Homo sapiens: one gene and its partner. The protein of the gene in region 2 interacts with the protein of the main gene of each other region in a pairwise test. Each region holds a gene or a part of one and is shown on either strand. Other genes may lie near its edges.

Evidence for each region.
Region 1: the proteins of WDR24 (region 2) and SZT2 interact in binary tests that used the Homo sapiens proteins (3 or more experiments, as listed by UniProt).

What each region holds. Positions count from the first base shown.
Region 1 is NC_000001.11:43,441,618-43,448,903, reverse strand, and holds part of SZT2 (KICSTOR complex protein SZT2), read right to left. Parts: intron 7,219-7,286; coding exon 7,086-7,218; intron 6,905-7,085; coding exon 6,774-6,904; intron 6,637-6,773; coding exon 6,536-6,636; intron 6,463-6,535; coding exon 6,286-6,462; intron 6,086-6,285; coding exon 5,818-6,085; intron 5,717-5,817; coding exon 5,637-5,716; intron 5,553-5,636; coding exon 5,427-5,552; intron 5,308-5,426; coding exon 5,108-5,307; intron 3,011-5,107; coding exon 2,920-3,010; intron 2,726-2,919; coding exon 2,645-2,725; intron 2,563-2,644; coding exon 2,488-2,562; intron 1,950-2,487; coding exon 1,736-1,949; intron 1,360-1,735; coding exon 1,206-1,359; intron 1,129-1,205; exon of another isoform or gene 1,056-1,128; coding exon 933-1,055; intron 826-932; coding exon 420-825; exon of another isoform or gene 293-419; coding exon 176-292; intron 1-175.
Region 2 is NC_000016.10:683,984-687,546, forward strand, and holds the end of WDR24 (GATOR2 complex protein WDR24), read right to left. Parts: intron 3,434-3,563; coding exon 2,761-3,433; intron 2,204-2,760; coding exon 2,085-2,203; intron 2,008-2,084; coding exon 1,886-2,007; intron 1,801-1,885; coding exon 1,696-1,800; intron 1,615-1,695; coding exon 1,274-1,614; intron 1,194-1,273; coding exon 1,009-1,193; intron 920-1,008; coding exon 751-919; 3' UTR 639-750; downstream 1-638. Other genes in the region: JMJD8 (jmjC domain-containing protein 8 isoform 1 precursor), read right to left, coding at 83-172, 251-336. UniProt on the Homo sapiens protein: Catalytic component of the GATOR2 complex, a multiprotein complex that acts as an activator of the amino acid-sensing branch of the mTORC1 signaling pathway. The GATOR2 complex indirectly activates mTORC1 through the inhibition of the GATOR1 subcomplex.

The DNA of each region.
Region 1 (7,286 bases), on a different chromosome or scaffold from region 2:
CACATGCTGTAGCTCGATGCCCGGTACTGGAAGGGTTTTACATGTATCTGTGTAGTCCCGTTCTGTCTAGGCCTCCCTCCAGAGCAGAGCTTGTTTGGTCAGGCTGAGGGGCACATCTGTTTGGTGAGGATTTCTGCTGTGTTTCCCTTTTCAGAGGAAGCTCAAGGGGACTTACCAGGTACTGAGTTCCCAAGTCTGGGCTTTGGAAATGGCGACAGCTCTGGGGGAAGCGGCTTAGGAGAACTTTGATCAGGCTCTGGTACCAGGAGACCGTCATGGATAGGAAGCAGTCCTGAGGGAGGAGCCACAGGCCTGAGTCTTCTGTGCCAGTCACCTCAGATTCCTGTGCCCTCTGCCCTGGCTGCCAGTGGAATTCCTGGCACCTATCCCAGCTCTTTCGGGAGCCCACAGTTCCTTACCAGCTGGGGGTCGATGTCCCCAATGGATTTGGCATGGACTGCTTCTAGGAGTTCCTCCAGCTCTGCCAGGGCCAGGCGCCCCCCTAGCCGCAGTCGATCAGGCCCCGGTGGCTCCAGCAAGAAGAGGCGCTTCCAAAGGGTGTCCCGACGGCAGTGCCCTCCAGCCAGCCGCACCAGCTGAGCCAGCCGTGCTCGTGCCATGCCCACCTCTGCAGCCAGTGGTGGGAACAGAGGAGCCGGTCCAGGCGCTAGAATAAGCCCTGAGGCCTCCCCAGGGCTGCCAGCTGAACTCCCAGGAGCCTCTGGCTCAGGGGGCAGTCTGGGTGGCTTCCGGAAGCGGCGCATGTCAGCAGTGAGCCTGGGGAAGAGCTCTCGCTGGCTGGTGAGCACCACGAAGAACTGTAGCCTGGGGTGGGGAGCAGGGCAGGAGAGTGGTGGTTGTAGCAAGAGACACACAGGGCAGGGTGGGGCAGGCTGGGAAATGGGCATGTTCAAGGTAGGGGATCTGCTGACCGCAGAACGTGCCGCTCAGCCTCTCCTTGCTCCTCAAAGGGTGCAGCACAGTGACAGACAAGCAGAGACACATCAAAGTCATCCTGGTGTCGAAGTCCCTCAGAGTCCAGGTAGGAGCCAGAACTGTGCAGGACGGGTTGGGGAGATGTCAACTCTGGGGTTCTAATAAAACAAACCTCACCCCTGCCCAAGAAAACATTGGTCTCCCTACTGCAAGTATGTCCCAACCCCAGCTCCTGCAGCGTGCATGCTGGATGCCCCTCTCAGCCTTACCTGTGCCATGCCGACACCAGGGCATACTCGTTGTGTTCTGGGCCCCCTGGCCGGGCCATTCGCAATGGCTTCATGTGGTAAGAGCTGGCGTGATCAGCCACGTAGTTGTATAGCTGGTGGGCAGCAATGAGTGGTGTGGGGAGCTCCAATGTCCCTGAGGGATAAGTAACAGGAGACAGCAGACACTAAGCCTAGGACAGACACACTGGTCTGGTGGGGCACAGGGATGGGAGTCTTTAAGGCTCTGACTGGCAGGCAGAGTGGGTCTGCTTTCCTTAGGAGCTCCTGCATTCCTGTGGAACACTGAGATGGGACAGAAGTGACTCAGAGGGCAGGGGACATGTGACATGGGGTCCAAACTCTGGTAAGAAACAGACACAGGACAGAAACATGGGGACGTGGTATGTGTGACATGAGATGATTAACAACATGGGACCACTTGTCCAGGGAGGTGGTCCCACCAGCCCTGACCTGGAGGCACCTGTGGCCTGTTCTTTTTTGGGTTCACTGGCTTGCCCTTGGGCACTGACCTTGGTAAATGTGATTGCGGCCAAAGTGGGGTCCGTCAGGGTGGTGGGCCAGGAAGTGTCGCAGAAAGGTGGTGAGGTGGTAGCCGTGCCGCAGCACCAGATGGGCACCTAGCACGTGCTGATGCACGAGGCGCAGATGGAAGTCATAGCTGAACGAGTGCACGTGCATCAGGTCCCGCACCTTGTCACACTCCTCTGTGAACAGCATGGACAGCTGGGGAGGCAGCAGCAGGAGACAGGGTTAAGGTATGGCTGCACTGGCTGCCCAAAACACATTTCCCTCCTTCCGTGGGAAGAAGCACAAGATTTCCCCTGCTGCTGTGGCCTAGTGGAACGCCCTCTGCCAGAATGGTTTCTGTGGGAAGGCCTCCCCATTCTAGCCTCCCTTTTTCATACTGTATTGTAACTATCTCCATGAAACTAGGGCCATTTTCAGAAACTGGGCCATTTTGCTCTATCCCAGATTCCATCAGGGTCTGCCACAGACTCTAGATGACTACAGGCCAGACCAGGCACTGTGCTGCCTCAGGGCTACAGCTGAACACGCTTTGGATGACCGATGGGGTCAGCCTTGTAGTGAGTGCAGTCATGGCACCAGAATGAGCACTGACCTAGCCAGGCCATAGCAGTGAATCAATCACTGGGCCAGCCCGCCTACTGCATTACTCTACTGCCCAGCAAATGGGACATGGAGCCATGCTGCCCACAGCACACTGGGGTGCACTGACTGTGCCCGCAGCTCATTCACATACCTGTGAGTTGACAGCCTGCCCCATTGGGATTCGGGAACATTCCAGGGCAAACTGTTTGACACAGAAGTAACAGCCCTGGAGGGAAGGTGAAGATGAGATCAGGAAGGCGAGAGACAGGTGGGTCTGGCTGTCTCCACTCAGTGCTCCTCCTGCTTACCTGGAATGCCAGTTCCATGAGGATGATGCCCCCAGGCAGTGCCCGCTGCAGGTGGTAGGTGGTTACCGGAGAGCTAGTGCTCTGAAGAAACAAAAAAGGGGGCAAGGTTTGGGGGCTCACCAGCCTCGAATCAGTAGGGTGGAAGTCCCTTGGACCCTGACTTTAATGGTGTCAGTCTGGGATCAGTGACCTCGGTACATCACTCAGGGTCAATGACCTCAGGCCGTGGGAAAGTAATTTAGCATCAGTAACTTTACCATTATATGACAAGTTACCTTGGGGCTCCCATCAGTCTTGGTTTTAGGGCAGGAGAAGGAGCCTCGACCCTCTGTTCCAAGGATAGCCATGGCCCGTGGCCGGCTGGTGCTATAGAAAAGGAGGAGGGATAAGAGGATGAGGCAGGCTAGTGGCATGCAGTCATGGTGATCAGACCCAGAATCTGTTTTATATGGAATCATTTTGCAAGGGAGGAAACAGACCCACAAAGCTGCCACTGTGAGTGGCAAGGCTGGGCTTGGAGTCCAGGTCTAGACTGCAAGGCTGGGCTCTCTCCATAGCAGCTGCTGCTTCAAGGGAGGCAAAAACAGTGCTCAGTGGGGAGGTGGAGACTAAGCCTCTGCTACTGAGAGGGTGTGTGCTGGGCAGGAAAGAGAAGGGGGAAGGTGATGCCTGTCTACAATTTGATTAGGAAAATTCAAGGAGATGCTTGATGCCTGGTTAGGTACCTTCCTCTGAAAGGGCAAAGCTGCTGTCTTTTGATTGGGGGGGATGGCAGTTCCAGGCTTTCAGAGGCCTACTGCTCGTTACAGTTTAGTGCAGAGGATAGGGGAGAAGGGAAGCAGGGGAGGGACTGGGAAGAAGGGACAGAACAGAAGGGGTTGGGGGGACCCACTCACGCCAAGGGGCTATAAACTGCCAGAATTCTTGCTGGGGGTCAAAACCTCTGGTGGAAAAAATGTCCCATTTAAACCTCAAGGAAACTGGGACAAGACTTAGTGATTGGTGATTGTTAAAGATTGGTGGGAAGGGAAGACCTGGCTTTAAATTTTGCTGTAGAAACATTTTTTTTTTTAACCCAGTGTCTAAAGGAATTCAGATTTGGGGGAAAGAGCATAACTTATGGCAAGTGTGCAAACTAAAGTCCTTTAGAGAAGCTCCTAGAGCTGGGAACTGGCTGTCAAGATAGCAAGCTGGGCAGCTCCTCCCCAGGGTAGGAGGGGCCAGCCTGGCCTCTGAGATGGGATCACAGGAGGGGCAGGCACGCCTTCTCTTCCTAATGCCTGGAAGAGAGGGAAACCTGGGGAGTGGGGAGCTGGTCACAGAAACATGAGAGAGTTGGAACTGGCATTTCTGGACTACTGGCTTGAAAAGGTTCTAACTGAAAACAGAGAGGAGGGAGAACATGCCTTGATAAACTCACAAATCTGGAGACACGAAAGTAGCTATGTGTAAGGTGAACAGCTCATTTTTCGCATACAGCCACTGGGAAAGGGCAGAGAACACAGAATCTGGAGAGGAACATAGAGCAGGGGCCACAAACACGGGAATCTGAGATTTGACAGTGGATGAAAAGGTGGCTGCAGAGTTGTCCCTGAGCTCAGGGGAGATGGAGGTGGCAACAGACGGGCTGCCTACTTCCCAAGACTCAGACCTGTCAGTACTGGCCAGTGGGTGAACATGACCAAGAACAGGCCAAGGACAGTGATGCAAGTAGGCCTAGCACAGAGGTCCTTGGTGAGAAAAGGACTTCCCTGGGCCGAGAACTACATCAAATCTCAGGAGAGGTCAGTGGGATGATAAGGACAGGAATCATTAAGTCCTAGATCCAGAGGCTTAGGAGCATGTACAAGATTCACATGTGCAGGCCGGGCGTGATGGCTCACACCTATAATCCTAGCACTTTGGGAGGCTGAGGTGGGCGGACTACCTGAGTTGAGGAGTTCAAGACCAGTCTAGGCAACATGGTGATACCCCATCTCTACTAAAATACAAAAAATTAGCCAAGCAGGGTGGCGTGCACCTGTAATCCCAGCTACTTGGGAGACTGAGGCACAAGAATTGCTCGAACCCAGGAGGTGGAGGTTGCAGTGAGCCGAGATCGCGCCACTGCACTCCAGCCTAGGCGACACAGTGAGATTCCATCTCCAAAAAAATTCACATGTGGGGATGTATGCAAGTGTGTAAGTGTACAAGATGTGTGTGGGCATGAGCTTTGTGAAAATGGACACAGTTTTGTATGAGTGTCATCATGAGTTCCATAAAGCATACAAGGTCTGCAGGACACGCATGAGGGCTGTGTGAAAGTATCTGAGACCCTCACATGAGTGCAAGCCTGGTGGGATAAACATGCACAGGCCCAGCCCAAATTGTCAACATAGGACCTTGTAAAGAGAGGAAGGGCCTGTGGGGCCTCACTTGCAGTGCAGGAGGAGAAGACAGAAGGGAAAACAGGGACGGGCTCACCTGCGGGCGGGTGAGGGGGGCCGCAGTGGTACCAGCACAAAACCTATGCTCTGCAGATACTGCACATATTGCTGCAGGAAAGCCAAGCTCAGCTCCTTCAGCCAAGGCTCCTCACGGGCTCCCGGGGGCGACACATCCAAGGATTCACAGCTTGTGGGGGCCTCTCGGCTCCCAGACCCTGACTCAGGGCGATGGCGCCGCTATGAGAGTAAAGATCAAGGAAGACTCTCCCCACTGTCAACCATCCTGCTGGGGATGGAGGAGGGGGGTCACTGTGGGGTAAGCAAAGGTCTGCTAGAAGTCTGGGAGTCAGCCTTACCTGCCCGTCAGGGGGTCCAGAGGTCTCTGGGGGCCCATGCAGCCAGGCAGCTGGGTCGAAGAGCATGGCTGTTGCACAGTAATGCACCAGGCGGGATGACTGCTTCAGGGTCTCCAGCTCTCCAGCCTGGGGAAACAGGGCAGTGAGCATGGAGCAGTGACGGGGCAGGATCACAGATACTCAAGGAAGATGCAAGCTGGGGTCACTCACACTGATGGGCATGGTGGCTGGGGTAGAACGCTGCTGCCAGGTTACAAACAGGTTTTCCATCTTCATCTGGCGCTCCAGCTCTGAGGGTTGAGGGCATTAGTAGTAGCCCCAGGCATTGTCACTCCCTTCCTCCCAGACTCCACAGATTTCCTGTCCCTGCTGCCTGGCCCAGTACCCTCACCTCTGCGCTCTGCCATCTTGATCTCTAGGAACTGTTGTCCATGGTAGGTGACAGGATCAGGAGGTCTGGGCACAGGACCAAGTACGGAGCTGGGGCGGGCAGCCGTGATATCCCTTAGGGCCTCGTCAAAGGGGAATGTGTCCAGGGGAAGAGGACCCCCACCACGAGAGGACCCACTCAGTCGGCCCTGCTCACGGCTCAGCGGGGGACTTGCACTCCGGATGAGGGTCTCCACTTCCATGGTCGGCAGCAGGAATGGGTTTGGCTCCTGAGAGATGGAGCATTGCAATGGGTTCATAGCCTTTGCCCTCGGACCCTCTCTCTCATCCCAGGGCTTCCTCTCTCAGACTCTCCCTCCCCACTACCTCTGCCCTCAGTCTGTCCCATCTTTCTGGCTTCTGAGCTGGTTTTTCCTTTAACTGACCCCTCAGTAGCCAAAACTATAGGAAGAACCAGAGCAGCAGGCACCTTTTCATCTCGCACGGGGAAGTCCAACTGGCCATAATGATGGAAGAGGCCAAGCTTCTGGCTGAGTAGGCAGAAGATGAGATGGGCTCGTGCATTCTGCCACTGCACCAGGCGAACCAGCGCTCGGCCCAATGCTGCCCCCAGGTCTGGAGCCCAGTTGTAGGTCAGCAGCTGTAGCTGGAGGTCGGGGGTCAGGGTCAGTGAGATCACGGAACCCCTCTTCCCACCCAGTCCCTGGCCCCATATTTACCTTCTTGTCCACAACCTCTAGTAGCAAGAGCCTCTGCCGGGGAGCATTTCGCCCTGAGCTCCCATCACCTCCTGGCTCGAAGCGCTGCATGGCTTTGGCAGCTACAGGGTGGGGGAGGGGCACAATAGGGGCCTGGGAACAGATCCCCCTTGATCCCACCCTCCCCTCTGCAAGGTTGGAGACCCCACCAGTTACTCTTAGCCTACCCGCCCCCCGCCCCCCCGGGCCATGCCCTCACCCTGCTGTGTTGGTCTCCTCCACTGCAAGAAGTTCCTTCCCAGAAGCAGCAGATGCCGCTCAGCTGCAGGGCGGGGAGAGGGGCCCAGTTGCCCAGGGGAACAAGGGCCGAAGATCTCTGGCTCTGAACCCCTATTGAAAGGGAGGACAGACAGAAAGGCCATCCATGACACCACTCCCTGGCCTAGCCTTCACCTCCCTGGGCCTTGTTTCCACCTCTCCTAGCTCAGCTTCCTCAGGTTTGGCTTCCTGTAGGCCCAGCTTTTAGGAAGTCTAGGGGAGTTCCCTTCAATTCTATAGGATCTACACTCACAAATGCTGCTCAAAGATGCGGACACTGGTGTCTCCAGCCATTGAGGTGACCAGTGCGGTGAACTCAGACAGGATGGATGGAAGGAGGAACCGGGACACCATGTGGGCAGAGCTTCTGGACACTGAGGCACAACCTAGGAGGCAGAGGAGTCACTGTGGAGCTGCAGGATGGAGACCAGGCTGGGGTTGAGGGATGGGAGGG
Region 2 (3,563 bases):
GTCAGGGGAAGGCGGCCTTGGGCGGTCGGGGCAGACGGGCCGGTGAACAGGACGCGACCTCCGCGATCAGGGGCGCACGTACTGCTGCACGAACTCCGCGTAGGTGAGGTCGGCCCGACGCTCCACCGTGCAGCGCTCCTCCTCCGCCACGGCCCCCGGCCCGCCCGGGCGCCTGCGGGCACAGCTGGGTCAGCCCGCGCCCCGCCCGCCGCACGTGACCCCACCGCCCGGCCCCTCCCGGGCCGCTCACCACCCGCCGTCGCCCTCCGCCCCGGAGCCGGGTAGAGCCACAGCCGCCAGCGCCCAGAGCGCGAGCAACCGCGACGCCGGCGCCATGAGCCTGCCGCCCTCAGGCAGCCGCGCTGCACGCCGGGAACCTTGGGCCCATCCGCCAGCCATTGGCCGGCAGCTTCGTCGTCGTGGCAACGGCCGGGAACCGGGACGGACCCCGGAAGTGACCTCCTTTGGCCCGCCCCGGAAGAGGCCTCTACGGGAGGCACTGGGAAGGCCGCCCCGAGAGCGACTATGGGCGCCGCCGGTTACCATGGCGACAACCCCGCCGAAAGCCCCCGCCCGCCAGCTGCCCCGCGGGCCTACGGCGAGCCCGCCGCGCTATGGGGTGACACGCAGTGCCGACAGCGGCTCTACTTCCTTTATTGAGGTCTCAAGTTCCAGCCTCCGCCCGTCTCGGGCACAAGACCAGGCGGGGTTCTGCACGCGGCCGCCCGGGCAAGCCCAGCAGATGCCCCGTCAGGAGTACTCGCAGAGGTGGCCGCAGCCTGCGGGACAGTGGGAGCTGCCTTCCAGCCACTTCATGATGTGCTGCAGGTGGCCGCCGTGGCTGCAGCCCTGGCACCACACGAAGAGACCCTTGACTACGTGGTGGCAGACGGCACACATGCTGGCGCAGCGGTGGCACCTGGGGGCGGGCGGGAGGGAGGGTGCCTCAGCGGGGGCTGCTGCGCTGCCTGCAGGCCCCTGCCCCACCTCCCGACCCCACTGCCCCACCTGTCGCAGACCCAGCCCCGGCTGCTCATGGGCCGCTTGCAGTGGCTGCAGTTGACGTGCAGGGTGGTGGAGGCCTGGTTGAGGCAGCTGACGGCGCGGCTGGTGCTCAGCTTGACCACCTCGTTGGACACGTTCCAGAGGCGGAAGCGCTGCAGCAGGTCGATGTAGGAAGTGTACCAGTGCTCCTGGGGGAGGGAGCGCCCGGCAGTCAGGATCTGGGTGCCAGGGGCGGCGCTGCAGGGGGGAGGCCCCGCCCACCACACACCTGGGTCTGCTCGTCGATGTCCTTGCGCACCCGTTCACCCAGGACGATGAGCACAGACACAGCCATCTGCACGTCGCCCTGCTCAGCGTAGAAGTGCAGCATGTCGCGCACCAGCACGCCGAAGAAGTCGGGCGGCAGGCGGCTGTCGTAGAGCGCGTGTGAGACAGACAGGAGCGAGAAGGAGGAGTCCACGGGGGCCAGGGAGGCCACATCCGCCTCGCTGCCGCTCACGTGCGGGGAGTCGGCCTTGTCCTGCAGGTGCTCGGGCCCGGGAGGCGTGTCCACGATCTCGTGGCGCAGCGGAAAGGCCTCCTGCGGCAGCACGCACTCAGGGTCCTCGGCTGGAAGGCAGGGACCAGCGGAGGCTCTGAGTCTGTCCTCCATCCGCCTCTGAACCCCACCCTGCCCGGACCCCCACTCACGGTGCGCGTGTTCCGGATCCAGCAGGTACAGCTCGTCCTCCTCACCTTCCACGTCACCCAGCAGGTAGTCGGCAGGTACGTCGCTGCCCTCGGTTTCCTCGTTATCTGCCCGACAATGGGGCGGGCATTCAGGGTCGTCTGGGACACCCCCACCCCTCTCCCATCAGCACCCCTACCCACCCCAGCCTACCCTCATTGGTGATGAGTGTGGCCGAGGAGTCGAGCAGAACTGTGTCGCTCCGTGCATCTCCTTTGCTGCGGTCCAGCCGCGTCTCACTGCCCAACCCTGGGGCCATATCCTTCAGGTTGAAACTGGGGGCAGGAAGGGCCCATGGGTGGGTGGGCTCGAGCAGCCCCAGCCCCTGGGGAGAGCTGCCCCCGGCATCTACCTGTTCATGAGCGGGAGGCCACAGGAGCCACCCTTGCCCACACTGTGGTTGAGGTTTGCAGTGGGCACTAGGCCAGGGCTGCAGTAGATGATCCGCAGCATGGTCCACGTTTGCGCCACCTAGGGGCGGGCACTGGTCACTTGTGGGCGTCCTGGACACCCAGCACCCCATGCAGGTCCCTCTCTGCCTGGACAGTCACAAGCCCTCAGCATTCAGCTGCCCTCAGTACCCAATGTCCAGGCCCACCCCAGGTAGGAAAGCTGAGGCTCATGGGAAAGACAAAAACCCCGGTCCCCGCCCTACAGCAGCACAGAGGAAAACAGAATTGGGCAGTGGGGACTTGCGGGGCAGCTAGAGATGGGCATGGGAACGGCAGCTCACGGCTCCACCGCTGCTGGTGCCTGGAGAGCTCCAGAAGCAAGGGGGGAAGAACAGAGAGCTTGAGCCACACGACTCCCGAGACCCCCGCCCCTCAGAGGACAGTCCTGGGTCTGGCCCACCCTGGAGCCCTGGCCCTGTGTGATCCTGACACCCTCAGCTACCAAGGCAAGGCCTGTTGGTGCGACTGGCTGGAGTCCATTGCGGAGCTTGAGGTGGGGTGAGCGCAGCTGACGGAGGAACCAGCCCCTGCCCTGAGGTCGTGGCCCAGGGACCCCCAGGCTCAGCACCTACCTACCTGGTTGCGGCCAAGCTCTCGAGCCACCTTTGCGTTGTGGTCACAGAGCTCGGCCAGTGGCCGGCCAGCCAGCGCATAACGCTCAGCTGTGTCCACAAACCAGCGCATGCCGCCGCCACCTGGCTCCGTCTCAAAGACACTGAGGGCACTGGAGGCGAGGCCTGCGAAGGGCTCGGCAGGGTCCAGCTTGCGCTTAAAGAAGATGGGGTGGCGCCGGTCGCCAGTGTAGGGCTTGCGCCCCGACTCGGCAGCCACGAGGCTCTCCTTGGCGGCGAAGGCCAGGTCCCCGAAGAGGCCGTAGCAGAGGCCCTCAGGGTTGGCGCGCTCGACGGGCTGGCTGGCGTCGCGGAACAGGTGCTGGCACAGCGAGCTGTCCTTGGAGCCAGACAGCAGGAAGGAGGGGTCGTGGGGGTGGCGCCAGGCAATTCCCGTGGTGACGTCTCGGTGTTCCTCAAACATGGCAGCTGGCACGAAGGGCCGGCGCACGTCCCAAACATAGATGTTGTGGTCCACCATCATGGAGCACGTGGCCAGGTGGTGGCGGCACTCTGGCCGCCACTTCACACGGGCCACCGAGGCGATGGTCTGCACACAGTGCATCTCCTTGGCACGGTGCGTGGTCATGTCCCAGACCTTCACCATCTTGTCGCGCCCTCCAGTGGCCAACCAGCCCCTGTGGGAAGAAGGTCCACCCAAACCCTCAGTGGCCTTTCCTGCAGAGAGGGGACCCCCCCGCTCTGCTGCTCCGGACTGTCTCATGGATCTGAGGCAGTGAGAGCTTACTGTCAACCTACTGCCCCTGC